4 separate regions of the Homo sapiens genome follow, and regions 2, 3 and 4 are each reported to be linked to region 1. The links are microRNA targets in miRTarBase. Many come from high-throughput screens and were not tested one by one. Region 1 holds a microRNA gene; each other region holds the end of a gene's coding sequence.

The links. The annotated mature microRNA hsa-miR-548n reads CAAAAGUAAUUGUGGAUUUUGU and lies in region 1 at 1,632-1,653, shown strand. An mRNA with a match to its seed (bases 2 to 7 or 8) in the 3' UTR can be bound and repressed. Matches are read on the target gene's strand: a 7mer-m8 pairs with bases 2 to 8, a 7mer-A1 pairs with bases 2 to 7 and ends in A, and an 8mer does both.
Region 2: miRTarBase lists PPP6R3 as a target of hsa-miR-548n. Seed matches in the 3' UTR shown: 7mer-A1 at 1,609-1,615 and 8mer at 2,433-2,440.
Region 3: the mRNA of DR1 is a reported target of hsa-miR-548n. Seed matches in the 3' UTR shown: 7mer-m8 at 1,779-1,785 and 8mer at 1,617-1,624.
Region 4: the mRNA of YTHDF1 is a reported target of hsa-miR-548n. Seed matches in the 3' UTR shown: 7mer-m8 at 410-416 and 7mer-A1 at 786-792.

What each region holds. Positions count from the first base shown.
Region 1 is chr7:34,939,308-34,942,456 of GRCh38, reverse strand. It overlaps MIR548N (microRNA 548n), which reads left to right and starts at 1,623; the gene lies at 1,623-1,697. It overlaps DPY19L1 (dpy-19 like C-mannosyltransferase 1), which reads left to right. Exons shown (of 22, transcript NM_001366673.1): 18 at 573-692; 19 at 2,130-2,304; 20 at 3,082-3,149. It overlaps LOC102724723 (a long non-coding RNA gene), which reads right to left and starts at 231. Exons shown (of 3, transcript XR_001745166.2): 1 at 151-231.
Region 2 is chr11:68,612,789-68,615,937 of GRCh38, forward strand. It overlaps PPP6R3 (protein phosphatase 6 regulatory subunit 3), which reads left to right. Exons shown (of 24, transcript NM_001164161.2): 24 at 278-2,546. The coding sequence ends at 329. Among named protein-coding and RNA genes, the nearest start is that of GAL, 70 kb to the right of the region's middle.
Region 3 is chr1:93,360,098-93,363,246 of GRCh38, reverse strand. DR1 (down-regulator of transcription 1) reads right to left here. Exons shown (of 3, transcript NM_001938.3): 3 at 1-2,754. The coding sequence ends at 2,608. Among named protein-coding and RNA genes, the nearest start is that of DR1, 16 kb to the right of the region's middle.
Region 4 is chr20:63,193,807-63,196,955 of GRCh38, reverse strand. YTHDF1 (YTH N6-methyladenosine RNA binding protein F1) reads left to right here. Exons shown (of 5, transcript NM_017798.4): 5 at 222-1,527. The coding sequence ends at 248. Among named protein-coding and RNA genes, the nearest start is that of MIR124-3, 17 kb to the right of the region's middle.

The DNA of each region.
Region 1 (3,149 bases):
CTGACTATTCATTTGTTAAAATTAACTAGGAAACTCATATGTTCTGCTCTGATCATCTTTACACTAATGGCAGTTGATTTCTGGAGCCCATTTAGACATATGTATGAGGTGTCTATTGCATGATTGGAAATCACTTTCCTCTCTGCTCACCTTGCTTGAGGCCTCAGAGATGTGATTGGTTACTGCTCCCATCTCCTAGTTGTCCAGTCTGGTTTTGAGGGCAGTTCCAAGGTGGAGCCCTCAGATCTTGAGGCAGCAGTCATTTCTTTTACCACTGTCTTTTCTTGGTCTGATGGTAGCATCAAGGTTGATTAAAAAATGTGGGCTTTATTAACCACAGGTTTGACTCTGAGAATCACAGAAACACTTGCCTTAATGACTTTATAATTTTAGCCTTCCACTAAAATGGAACAGTTTGAAAGTGAATTTTAAGAATTGTTTTCGAAGTTTCAGAAACCTTAGTAGTATTTTTTGTTACTAAGGAGAACGTACCCCTTTCTGCATATTGCCAGTTTAGTATTCTTAAACTTCACAAACAGTAGGAGTAAAAAACATTTTCTTCTTTCTTTCAGCTGGTTTACCATGCATTGCAATTGTTAGCATATACAGCCCTTGGTATTTTAATTATGAGACTAAAACTCTTCTTGACACCACACATGTGTGTTATGGCATCACTGATCTGCTCAAGACAGGTAACATGTTATGTTGGAGTATAGCTACTATGATAATTTTAGCCTTTATTATTGAGTGGCCCTAAAATAATGAATTACAAAGTCTTTTAAGTGATTATAGTTAAAGCTCTTCATGGTTTTGTACTTATCTTTCTTAAAGGGTAAGGGCCAAAGCTGATCATTTTCTATCTTTCTAAAGATTTAAAATAGTTGTTGGTGTACAACTAATACCGATTTAGTACAGACTGAGTTCATGAGTGATTACTGCAGGTGCTGATAGAAAGCAGAGCTTAATTGTACAAATAATAACTTTTTTTGTTTTGACATTCATATCACAAAGAAATCTAATAATTTCAGGTTATAAGTGCTTGAAAATTATATGTTCTTTTTTTAGTATCAAACTTATTTTTTTTTCAGTTGGTGCAATTTGTGTGCACATTCTTGACTTGTGCTTTTTAAAATTTAGTTTAAGCCTTCCTTGGTGGTTTGCTGCTTATTTTTCCTGGATAGCTGCCTCCTTGTTCTGTATTCACAGATTTATGCTTCTCCATAGTGTCACCTTTCCATCAGTCAACCAGCCTAGGTACAACAGCAGCACCTCCCTTAGACGTAGCAGATAGTCACTAAGCACCTACACTGCGCACTCTAGGGATGGAGGAGAGAGTAGTAGACAGAAAAGTCAAAAGCCAGTGTTTATAAGCCCTCAAGAAACTTGAAATCTAGCTCTGTAGACATGTGGAGAAAGATCAAGAGAACAAAGTGTTGTTATGGAGTGTGGACTATTTGGATGTGGAAAAAATTAGCCAGCCTTGAGGTTCCCAATCAGTATGTTGTATTATGTTAGAAAGGCACTACTTTCTACCTTTCTGACCCCTTCAGGCTGGCACAGGAAAGGAGGCTGGTTGGAAGCCTTTAATCTTGAGTCTTATCCCACAGCATGACTGATGATATAGGTTGGTGCAAAAGTAATTGTGGATTTTGTCGTTAAAAATAGCAAAACCCGCAATTACTTTTGCACCAACCTAATAGAAAGTGTCACCCAGGGCAGGTTTTCCAAGTGTGGGGTTCCTGCTGGTCACACAGGACCTCACATTCAGGACCCTGAACTTGATTGAATGTTTGCTGCTGCTGTTTTGAACGTCTTAATTTTTTAACAAGAGACCCCACATTTTTGTTTTGTACTGGGCCTTGTAAATTGGTTGTGGCTTTACTTGAATCTGGGAGTAGTGAAAGCAGGTTGAGAAAAGAGCTTCCTACATTGTGTTCCACTTATATGAGGCTGATGGTAGAATCCTTTTGATCCCAAAGATTATTATTTTGGGGCTTTTTCTTTAGGATAATTAATCCTTTATTTGGGACTCTAGCAGAGGCCTTATTCTTCTCTGGGAAGAAGTTTTGCATAACAGATGCATACTACTTATACTAACAATTACCAATGTATTCTTAATTTGGTTTCAGCTATTTGGATGGCTCTTTTGCAAAGTACATCCTGGTGCTATTGTGTTTGCTATATTAGCAGCAATGTCAATACAAGGTTCAGCAAATCTGCAAACCCAGTGGAATATTGTAGGGGAGTTCAGCAATTTGCCCCAAGAAGAACTTATAGAATGGATCAAATATAGTACTAAACCAGGTAAAAAAAAAAAAAAGAAAAAAAAAGTCATATTATTTAGCTGTTTTTCCCACAATTTTATATACCACTGCAAACTCTTAAACCCTAGTTACTTCCACTGATCTCACTCTTTCTATGCAATGTTGCTTTTAGAATATCTAAAACAAAGGAGATATCAATCCTGTTTAAATGGTTTGCAGGGGAAATGTTATACATATGTTCTTAGTAATTTATTCTGCCATTTTTTATAGATTTTAATTTTTTCAAAATTTATTCACAGTCATAAATGCCACATTTAAAATAATTTTTCCTGTGCTTATTTTCTTAATGAATTTTTAATATTAGTCCTTCACATTCCTTCTTGAAATAAACTCATGGAATGTGACATTTTATTCATGTGTGGAAAGGGAGACTTTGTTGTCATCTGAGTATCAAATGATTGAATACTAAATCATCTTCCAGAACTCCTTGTTACTGTAAAGCTTTCCTAGTCCATTTGATACTTCTTTTTTAGATTCAGGAAAGATTTCTAAGATTTTTTCTTTAAAGAAAGAAAGAAATCTTTAATGATGAGATGATGAAGCTCTGTTTTCCAAGGAAAATAGTTTACCCAGGCCTGGCTGCCAACTGCTACTTTATCAGCCATCTGACTTCATGCTAGTTCTGCCATTGAATCTTGAAGTCATGAACCTGCTGGGCTTCCGCTCTGTTACCTGTGAAATAATTGATTTACACTTGAAGGAGACACCTTCTCGCCTTCACTGAGTGTCTTCCTGAGACATTCCTCTTGCCTTCCAGATGCAGTGTTTGCGGGTGCCATGCCCACGATGGCAAGTGTTAAGCTCTCTGCACTTCGGCCCATTGTG
Region 2 (3,149 bases), not on the chromosome of region 1:
TTCTTGGAGGCCGCGGTGGGGCGGTTCTCCCAGAGCATTTGCTCTGCTGCTGCCCTTGCTGAATGCCTGCTCACCCGGTGATGAAGCTTAGATGCACTCACTCAGATTTTTCTAGAGCTTTTGCTCCATTCATTTACATATCATTTTATTAAAAACTTACTAAGTTCAAAACAATGTTAAAATAAGTTGTCCCTGCCCTTGGGGAGCTCAGCTAAGTAGGTTTTGTTTTTCATATTTCTGCTGCAAGTGCCTCCGATGCCTGTCTGTTGCTCCTTAGGACTGGCCAACCAAGCGCACCAGGTGACACTTCAGTGAATGGCCCTGTATGACGGGTGACGTCTGCTGCTGCTGACTGAGGACTGCAGACCGCCACCACTCAGGGGCTCTGGAGGGGTCAGCTGGAGCCCACCAAGCTGTCACTGCTGCACTCACTCTGCAAGGGATCAGGACCAGCAACCTTTATATTCTAGATTCTAAGACATTGTACAGAGAAATTCAGAAGTGTAAAAATATTGCACATTGACAAATACCAAGAATTTTTGCGTATGTTTATATTGTATTGTTCTAAATAATGGGTAGCCTGTGAAATAAGATCTTGCCACCCATGTAATAATAGTAGTAATACTATAGTTAAAATGGCTGTAAGAATAGTTTTATAAAAGTGAATACACAGATCTATTGTATTTGAAACATAACTTTGACAATTATTAGTGTGACCAAAGTATTAGGCGGTTTTCATACATTTTTCACCTTGTACAAAATTATGAATTCATTTTTCCTCCAGGCCGACAAGGAGTTGTAGAATGAAAATGCCCTCTAAGTGTTATTTTGGTTGTTCTAACTTACAAAAGTGATTTTGAATAAGAAATATTTGGTGTTCTTTTTATAACCAGTTTTTGATTGGTAATTGTTTTCTGTATTGTTTAAAACGGATCAAAAATGTAAGTCTATTGGTAGAGATTAAGTAAAGTATTTATTGCTACATCATAGTTGATAAATTGATGTTATCGTAAAGCCATATGTTCTGTTCAAGTCTTGTTTGCTTGAAATGATTATTCCTACAAGTGAAACACTAGACTATTTGGAGTGTATATGGCTTGTGTTTTGGGATTTTTTTTTTTTTTTTTTGGCTTTTGTTTTTGTTTGTTTTTTTGTTTCATTTGGTAGTTCATCTGCCTTTTAACCCATTCACCAAAATTTACCTTGTTAACAAGCATCACCAATGAACATTTCAGAGCAATCTGCATATTTAACAGACCTAAAATAAATCCTATTAGGCAAGTCAGTTGAAAATGCTCGTGCTGCTAATGGAATTAGAGTGCGTTCATTTTACAGGCTAGTATTTTAAAAGTAGAAATCAAAATCTGGCACCGAAGCATGCTAATTGTTTACTGTACCTTGTGAGGTTTTCACTCATAAATTTAAACCAGTGTATTTTTTTAGAACTGGTTTGTGTATATATATAGTGATTATGGATACTAATTCAATGTAATTTATAATTTTCTATGTCAATACAAAAATACATCACAGCCTTCTCAAACAGCTCAAGCAATATATTGTATATTGCCATATCGTCTGGTGAAAGGGTTAAATTACTTCACCTCTTGCACTTTTAGATGCAAATCAGTTTTTCATTTCTGTAATAGAAAATTATTCACGTATTTTTACATCATTTGTTTTTCCTGACCAGTATTTAAAACCAAAAGGATATTCTGAAAAATGGCCAACAATTTTTTTAGAAGTAGCATCCCAAGCAGCGTGCCTAAACATTACATTGCATATGGAAATAAAAGAATCAAACGTCTAATGCCTTATTATTTCTGATTTCCTTTTTCATTTTAAGTGGTGTGGAGATTCCAGCACTCCCAGGACAGTGGAGTCAGCAGTAAGCCCTGGGACAGGTGGCAAGGGTGGGTCCCTTGACCTTTGCACGCCTCCTCAGGAACCCCCTTTCCCGGGTGAGCCCCTCTCTGAAGAGACTGTCCTTGGGCCTCCTCTGGAAGCAGCACCCCCAGAGGACAGGGCTCCTCCTGCTTGCCTCAGGGCTGCCTGACTTGAATGGCGTTGGACCTCGGGGATTACTGGTAGATAATATGCTCTGGTCTCGCCTGGTGGTGAGTTTTGCCAGCCATGGCCAGGGTTTGGCTCCACTGGTGGCACACGTGGCCTCCGTGGTATGGACCTGGTGGCTTCTCCATCCCACTGTGGCCTCTGTGGTATGGACCTGGTGGCTTCTCCATCCTACCCAAGGTAACAGTGTCTTGCTTCATCCCACTGACTGCTGGGAGAGAGCCTCTGGGACTTTTCTTTGGGGCATCATTTTGTTTTGTCTTTCGTAGCAGGGAAAGGATATGACAATGGGGAGGACAGTTCTTTTGGAGGTTGGAGGGGCCAAGCCAAGGACAGGAGCAAGTGTGCCCTCATTTTGTTTCTACTTTTAATTTCTGTGTGTTGGCCATACTGAATTATGAGACTAACAGATGTCTACAATACAATACCTGTATTCAAAATAACAAAAATAAAGCCTGATTCTTTGTTTCTAGAAATCTCTTGTACCTTGCTTGGATTTTTAATGGGTTGATGTGTCCTGCCATTAGGTCCCGTGTTACACTAGGTCCTGTGTGAGAAAGACTGCACTGCACTGTGTGAGAGAGTGGCCTCTGGGATCAGGGGCTCATCCTCCCCACTGCCATAGCCCAGGTGCCCAGAAGAGGTGGTGCCTGACACCGGCTCTCAGTCTTGGGACGGCTCCAAGGGTTCCTCTGGACCTCCAGCTTGTTACTTTTATGTGCAGCGTGTCCCACCTATGTTGTTTGGCTCCCAGCCCAACAAGTCACAGTTAGGTGCTCCATAATGATTCTTAAGATGTGATGCTTATGTAGCTCCTTATTTTGCATTTTCCCTTCACCTGTTTGCTTAAAAACATGTTCTCTAGTCATTACCTCCTAGCAGGTCCTCTGCACAGCCTTTTGCTTTCTGGGCACGCATGCATCCCTCCGTGCCTGGGCCCACAGGCATCTCACACAGCACTGAGTACACACCTCTGCATGCTGGGCCCGCAGGCAGCTCACTCTGAGCTGTCTGGGTACCCACCTCTACATGCGAGTCCATAGGCATCTCACTGGCAATCGTGTAACCAGGGCACAAGC
Region 3 (3,149 bases), not on the chromosome of region 1:
ACTAATCTATGATTTTAGAAGTCAGGATAGTAACTTTCAGCAAGAAAGAAGACAGTGTTAAGATGGGGAAAGAGGAGGGCTTCTGGGGTACACATAATGCTCTGTGTTTTGATCTGAAGACTAGTATGTGAGTTTGTTTAATTTGTGAAAACCTTTATTTGTGTACTGTTTTGTGTGTGTGTGGTATATGCAGTTTTAAAAACTGATGCCTTTTAAACACTTACTAATCTGATAATCTGCCGAAAAAGAATATATAACATATATTCAAGGGGATGGAAAAATACTTACTGAACAATAATTTTATTTCTCAAGAACGCTGAAGATTTTGTTTCTCTCTTCAAAAGATTTAAAAAATTTTAACTGGCAAAACATAATAGTGACTCTTAAATGCTAAAAAAAAAAAAAAAAAAAAAAAAAAAAGAAAAAACCTAAAAATAAAATATTGCATAAGTAAGCTTTGTTATGCCTCGATCTTAGGACTGTAAATTATAAAAATACAAGTAAAACCACATTTTTTGAAATAACAGTAAACAAAAACAAAAGGCAGGTACTACATACCAAATGACCAAAATGTCTTTTGGGCCTAAGATTCTTGAAAATAGTAAAAATGGTAATAATAGAAATCTCTCTATAGAACATTAAATATAAAAACCATTTATAAAACACATCACAATTTTATTGCTTGAAGAATACAGCATATGAAATCACAAGAATGTCAAAATGAAAAGTCACTAGGCTTCAAACGTATAATACATTATCAGATGCAGTAAAATATTAACCTGAACTCTGCATCAGAAAAAAAAAAAAAGGTGTGGAAAATATCTAAGTTGTTTACTTAAGAAACAGATATACTTAAAATAGAAAGTATAAGGATGTTACAGTACAAATTAGAAAAGCCAACACGTATTAACTTATCGTTCTAGACTAGACTACCTTTGGTACTTAAACTTTTTAAAAAACAATTTCTTCTATCTCATCCAAATGCACTTCATGGGTATGACATCCATGAAGTAACTTCAACTTAAAACATTCAGCAAAATTAACCTTTTCACTTCATGGGGGAAGTATATTTAATAAATGTATAACAATATTTCCCTTTTACTAAAACTGCAAAATATGATCATTAAGAAACCTAACAGTTATAAAACTTTACTTACTTAGCTCTCCAATTAAAATTGGAATCCTGGGAGCCACAATCTATTTTTGGGCTTGGTGAATACATAAGTTTAAAAGATTTGGCAACTGACATAGGAATTTAATTACTTAATACTATCTTAAGTGACTTTTCCTTTCTGTTTCCAAAATATAGACATTATGCCATTTCTTCAACATCCTGGATTCCTATAAACACTACCATACTGTATTTATTAGAACCAAATTAAAGCTTCTCTAACAAGCAGGTAGAAACTATTTATGTTCCATATACGGCTGATAAGTTATAACACAACTTATGTTTCATATAGGGCTGATCAGTTAATTCATATAGGGCTGATCAGTTGTAACATAACTTCTTAAGCAAAACTAATCTTTTTTTTAAAGCTATCACTCAATTATGGAGACAATAATGTCATCTCAAAAGGTAATGTTGGACTCTAGGCCATCTAGTTGGGAAAATGTAAAAGTAATTCTAAAAACAATAAGTAAACTATAACTACAAGTTAAATTAAAAATCCCTCTCTCATAGCAAGCATGCTCATTAACTTTCATTTCTTTCCCCCAGCAAAGGTTTGAATATTCATAAACCTCAGTTAAACCAAGAGAACCAATGTAATTGTTTCAAAAGTACCACCTATATATTTGAATAATATGAGTATGGATGGACTAGGTAAGTAATACTATCAACAATTACTGAATTGGAGTGAAAGAGTAAAAATCATGACAGACTTCCAAACTGGGCAGTCTTTGAAATGTCATAGTGGAGCTCAAAATGAATTATGCTGTAATAAAACTATAGTTTTTACCTCTACACAAAACAGAAACAAAATAAAAAAACATAACCACCAAATTTATACAAATACTATTAAACATACTCCTTCCTAGTTTTTGAATGTCTTGAAGTTTTTCTAAACAAGTATATTGATCTGAGCATATATATTTATTGCCTATATATGTACTCATTTTAAAAGACAAATTCAGATACTACAGAACTGAACTCTTTCACCAACCCAATCCAATGTCTACTGATTCACACAGCACCCCCCCCTTAATAATTTAAAATTCACAAGTTTTAGTTTAGTTAAAAGGGCAGAGGAAATGCAAATGCAGATTTAGAGCTTTGTAGAAATTTCACTGTATTTTTATAAACTTGAAGTTATCTGTAACACTGTTTATTGATCAAACGAAGGACTCGCTGCTATCTAAAATTTCATAAACACCATTAAAAATTCAAAATTGATATTATACTGAACCTTAAATTTTCAATAGTTCAAAGAGACAGTTTTTACATGTATAGCACACAATAGATGAAACTTAATAGCAGACATCCCTAGAATACCAATGACAAGTCCACCAAGATGCATACAAAATTACAGATAAGCATTTCTTTCACTGTTTTTGTTGTGCAGGGAAAAACATTTATAGAAGAAATAGAAACTCAGCTGGTGAATTTCAGATATCATCATCATCTTCTTCATCCTGAGAAGATCCCGCCTGATTAGATGCACTGGCTGAGGCAGCAGCAAGCTGGGCTTGTTGGGCAGCTTGCTGCATTTGAAGCCATTCCTGTTGGGCCAATTCTGCTTGTTGCTGTCTAGCCTAAACACCCAAAACATAAAAAAAAATAACAATTTTTTACAAACCCACAATATATACACTTTGGTTAAATGTAGATTAGGCCAATTTCAGACAGTTTATTATCATACTTGGATACTGTCCAAGTACTATGTAATTGTCACACATCTGGAGAACATAAACTCTATAGGTAAATATAATTAGAGATTGCTTTTTTCTAACTACACAGGTCTAAGAAATTTCTCAAACTTGGATCTCTTATAAATGGCCCTGTTTTATTTCACGTAATTTATGACCTTTGATTCAACTGAAGAAGTTGAAAAAGTGGAACCAATATTGTGAAAAACCCACAATATTCCCTCTGGCTCTTTCCCTCTTCTTTTCCTTTCATTTCACTTGACTCTTCTGTACCCTCATAT
Region 4 (3,149 bases), not on the chromosome of region 1:
GGTAGAGGGGGTGGGGAGAATGCCATGCCCAGTGTGGCCAGTCCCCCACAGAGCAGGCCCCAGTGCAGCTCAGAGTTGTGTGCTGGTGTGGCTTGGGTACCATTCAGGGTCCCGCCTCCAGATTTGCAGGTGCTGCTAAGGGGCAGCCTCGGATCTCACTTTTGGGAGGGATTCATTGGTGTGGTTACTCTGCGTTCAACTTTTGTTTTTTCTTTTTACAGGAACGGCAGAGTCGAAACAAACAATGAGGGCGAACCAGTTTCTTACATGTTCTAACGTTTGACTTTGAAAACAGTTTAAAACACGTGTGCTTGGTCAGCTCCAGTGTGTCGTCCCGTGCGGGGGTTGAGTGTTGCATCTTTGCCTTTCTTGTCGTTGATTTTTGCCCAGATGGATCTGCATTTATTTGTACTTTTTCTATGTATTATAATCCTGTAGAAGTCACTAATAAAGGAGTATTTTTTTTGTCAGCTTATCAATCAGACTGATCTAATGTGAAATGTAAGTATCCTTAAAAACAAAGCATCTATTTTGGCAGAAATTGTGTTCTTAAATTCAGTCATTTGATATTCTGTGAGACTTCATATTTCTCATCCCTTTATTGCTTTTTAGCAAACATAAGAAACCATGAGTCATTTTGTCATTTAGAGTATTCTGATAAAATCTCTTGAAAATACTGAAATCAAAAGGTTAATGATTTTTTGTTCATTCTGATTTGTCATTTTATTATCTGTTATCGGTCTAAAGTGCTAATTTACCCATTTGATTTTTCTGCTAGACAGATAACTTTTAATTTTTCAAATTTGGCAGACACTTTTTTTTTTTTTTTGAAAATCTTTCCTTCCAGATCTGTTGCCCACTGAACAGCCACCCGTCCCTCACTGTCCTGGTGTCCGATTGGGCTGGATGGTGTTGGGGCATGATGTGTGGAGGAACTGGAAGGTGCTTTAGGTCTGGTTCAGGGTCGGGCATTCTTTGTTGTTTGCACATCTTTTTAAATTTTACACCTTTTCTTAAGAATTCTAATGCCGTCTTAAGTTTTTATACCAATAATGCTGAGCTTTAAGTGTAGGATCTGGTAGTACAGACAGTGTGATGGATGATGCTGCTGGTTGTAAATTTCATCGTGTGTGTCTAATTTTTTTTCCTGTTGAATGGGTAAAAACAAAACAAAACTTTTTTTAGAAGATGAATTTGCTGTCATGTTTTGTGGAATGAGGGACCGTTGAGCTCACTACCACCTGGAGTTTGAGTTGAAGCATGAAAATGGTGCCCATGCCTGACGCTCCAGCGCCTGGATCTGCACGTGCCCTTGTAGAGGATCCTTACCGTCCTAGAGAGCAGACGCTTTCTGAAAACTACTTGCTCCAAAAGACCCTCTGAGTTAACGTTTCAGCTGTATCATTAGACTTGTATTTAGAGCGTGTCACTTCCTCTGAACTGTTACTGCCTGAATGGAGTCCTGGACGACATTGGGTTTTTCCTCTAGGAGAATACAAGCCTTAATAAACAATACTATTTAGCAAACTTGGTGTCACCTCATTCTTCACCCTACTTGATGAGTTTATGTGTTGGAGCTTTTTAAGCTGCAGAGCCATTCGGGGAGTCACCGTAGAAAGCCCTGTGTTTCTCAAGGTGTGGGATTCTCGTTCCCTCGCTTTGGAAGAGGGAGCTGTTAATTTCCTTAAGACTATAAACTACATGGCACCGTCACCCACCCCTCATCACATGAATGTGCAGACGCAGCGGTGCGTGCAGCACCTGGGCACCGCTACCCCCTTTCTGGACTTGGCTCCTCACCGTCTCTCTCCATTCATCCTCCAATGCCTCTTATTATTTATGCAATAAGAGTTTAATACCTGTTTAGTTTGTTTTCCTTTTGAGGTAAAATTTATAAGCAGTGAAATGCACATTGTGTACATCTGCAGAAGTTGACAAGTATGTGATAAAGTTATGCAATATTAGCCTCAGCCCAGAAAATCCTGAGCTCAGGCAATCCGCCCGCCTTGGCCTCCCAAAGTACTAGGATTACAGGCACGAGCCACCACACCCAGTCTGTGAAGAGATTTTTTTAACAGAATTTTTAAGAGAATGCAATGCAAAATACAGAGTTCTTAATTTTTCCAGTTTTACATTTGAGGGGTAGGGAGGAAATGTTAATTCTTAAGAGTAGGATCTGCATATCCAGGTCCTTAATCCAAATACTCTGGAGCCTTCTCGGGACAGGGAACACCACATCTGCTTTTGAGAGCAGCCACGGTTGAGGAGGCTGGTGGTTATTCCAGTGCCCAGCAAAGTTTATTATTAACCGGAAGACACATTCAGTCCATTTTTAACAAAAGAGGAGGTTTCAGGTTAAATGGGTGTCCCGCCCGCTGGTTTTATTAGTTTGCATCTTGATAGATAAGGGGGCCAGATGAGGATGGCATCTTTCCCAGGCAGTCACCACCTCTGCCAGAAGTTAGTAGTTGGTTTAAGGAAACACAAAATGAGAACGGGAAAACGTGTCTGTTCTGACAGGCCAGTTAGAGGTAGGCTGTGTGCTCCCACCTGCAGCTCCAAATGCTGCTGTCATTTTAGGGAAGTGTGTTTTCAACCTCGAGTGGCTAATTCCTTCATTTTATGCCATTTTCTTGCTTGTATTCAAGTCCTGGCCTCCTTTAAAGATGAGTTCCCGGCTTTCAGAATGCTGAGCCGAGAGGTGCTGAAAGGTGGCAAGCATGACGACAGGTGCCATGCTTTATCTTTGTTGTTTCGTTGTTGTGGAAGAAGTGGATGCTGTTGTCCCCACAGAGTGGGAGGTGGTGGCAGGGACTCTGGCAAGTGGTAGTTGCTGACTGGCTTGTGAATGGATAGTGGATTGGGCGGTCTAGACAACACCTCCCCTGAGGCCTCCAAACCGGAGGAGGCAGTGGCTTCTCCTTCTGCCAACTTGGAAAGTTTTGTAGAACTGACACCGTGTCTGGGTGTTTGGGGCCTCCTGCCTGCATTCGTGGTGCATGGTAATGCCAGGCAAGGAGCCAGGCCTACCAGGGGAAGGGAGAACCGAAAGGCATAGGTTTGTGGAGTGAGAATTGGGGGGGCGGGGGAGGGATTTCATCTCATTTTGCTTTATAAAGAGCTGTAAGTTGTTAGTATTTCTCACACCT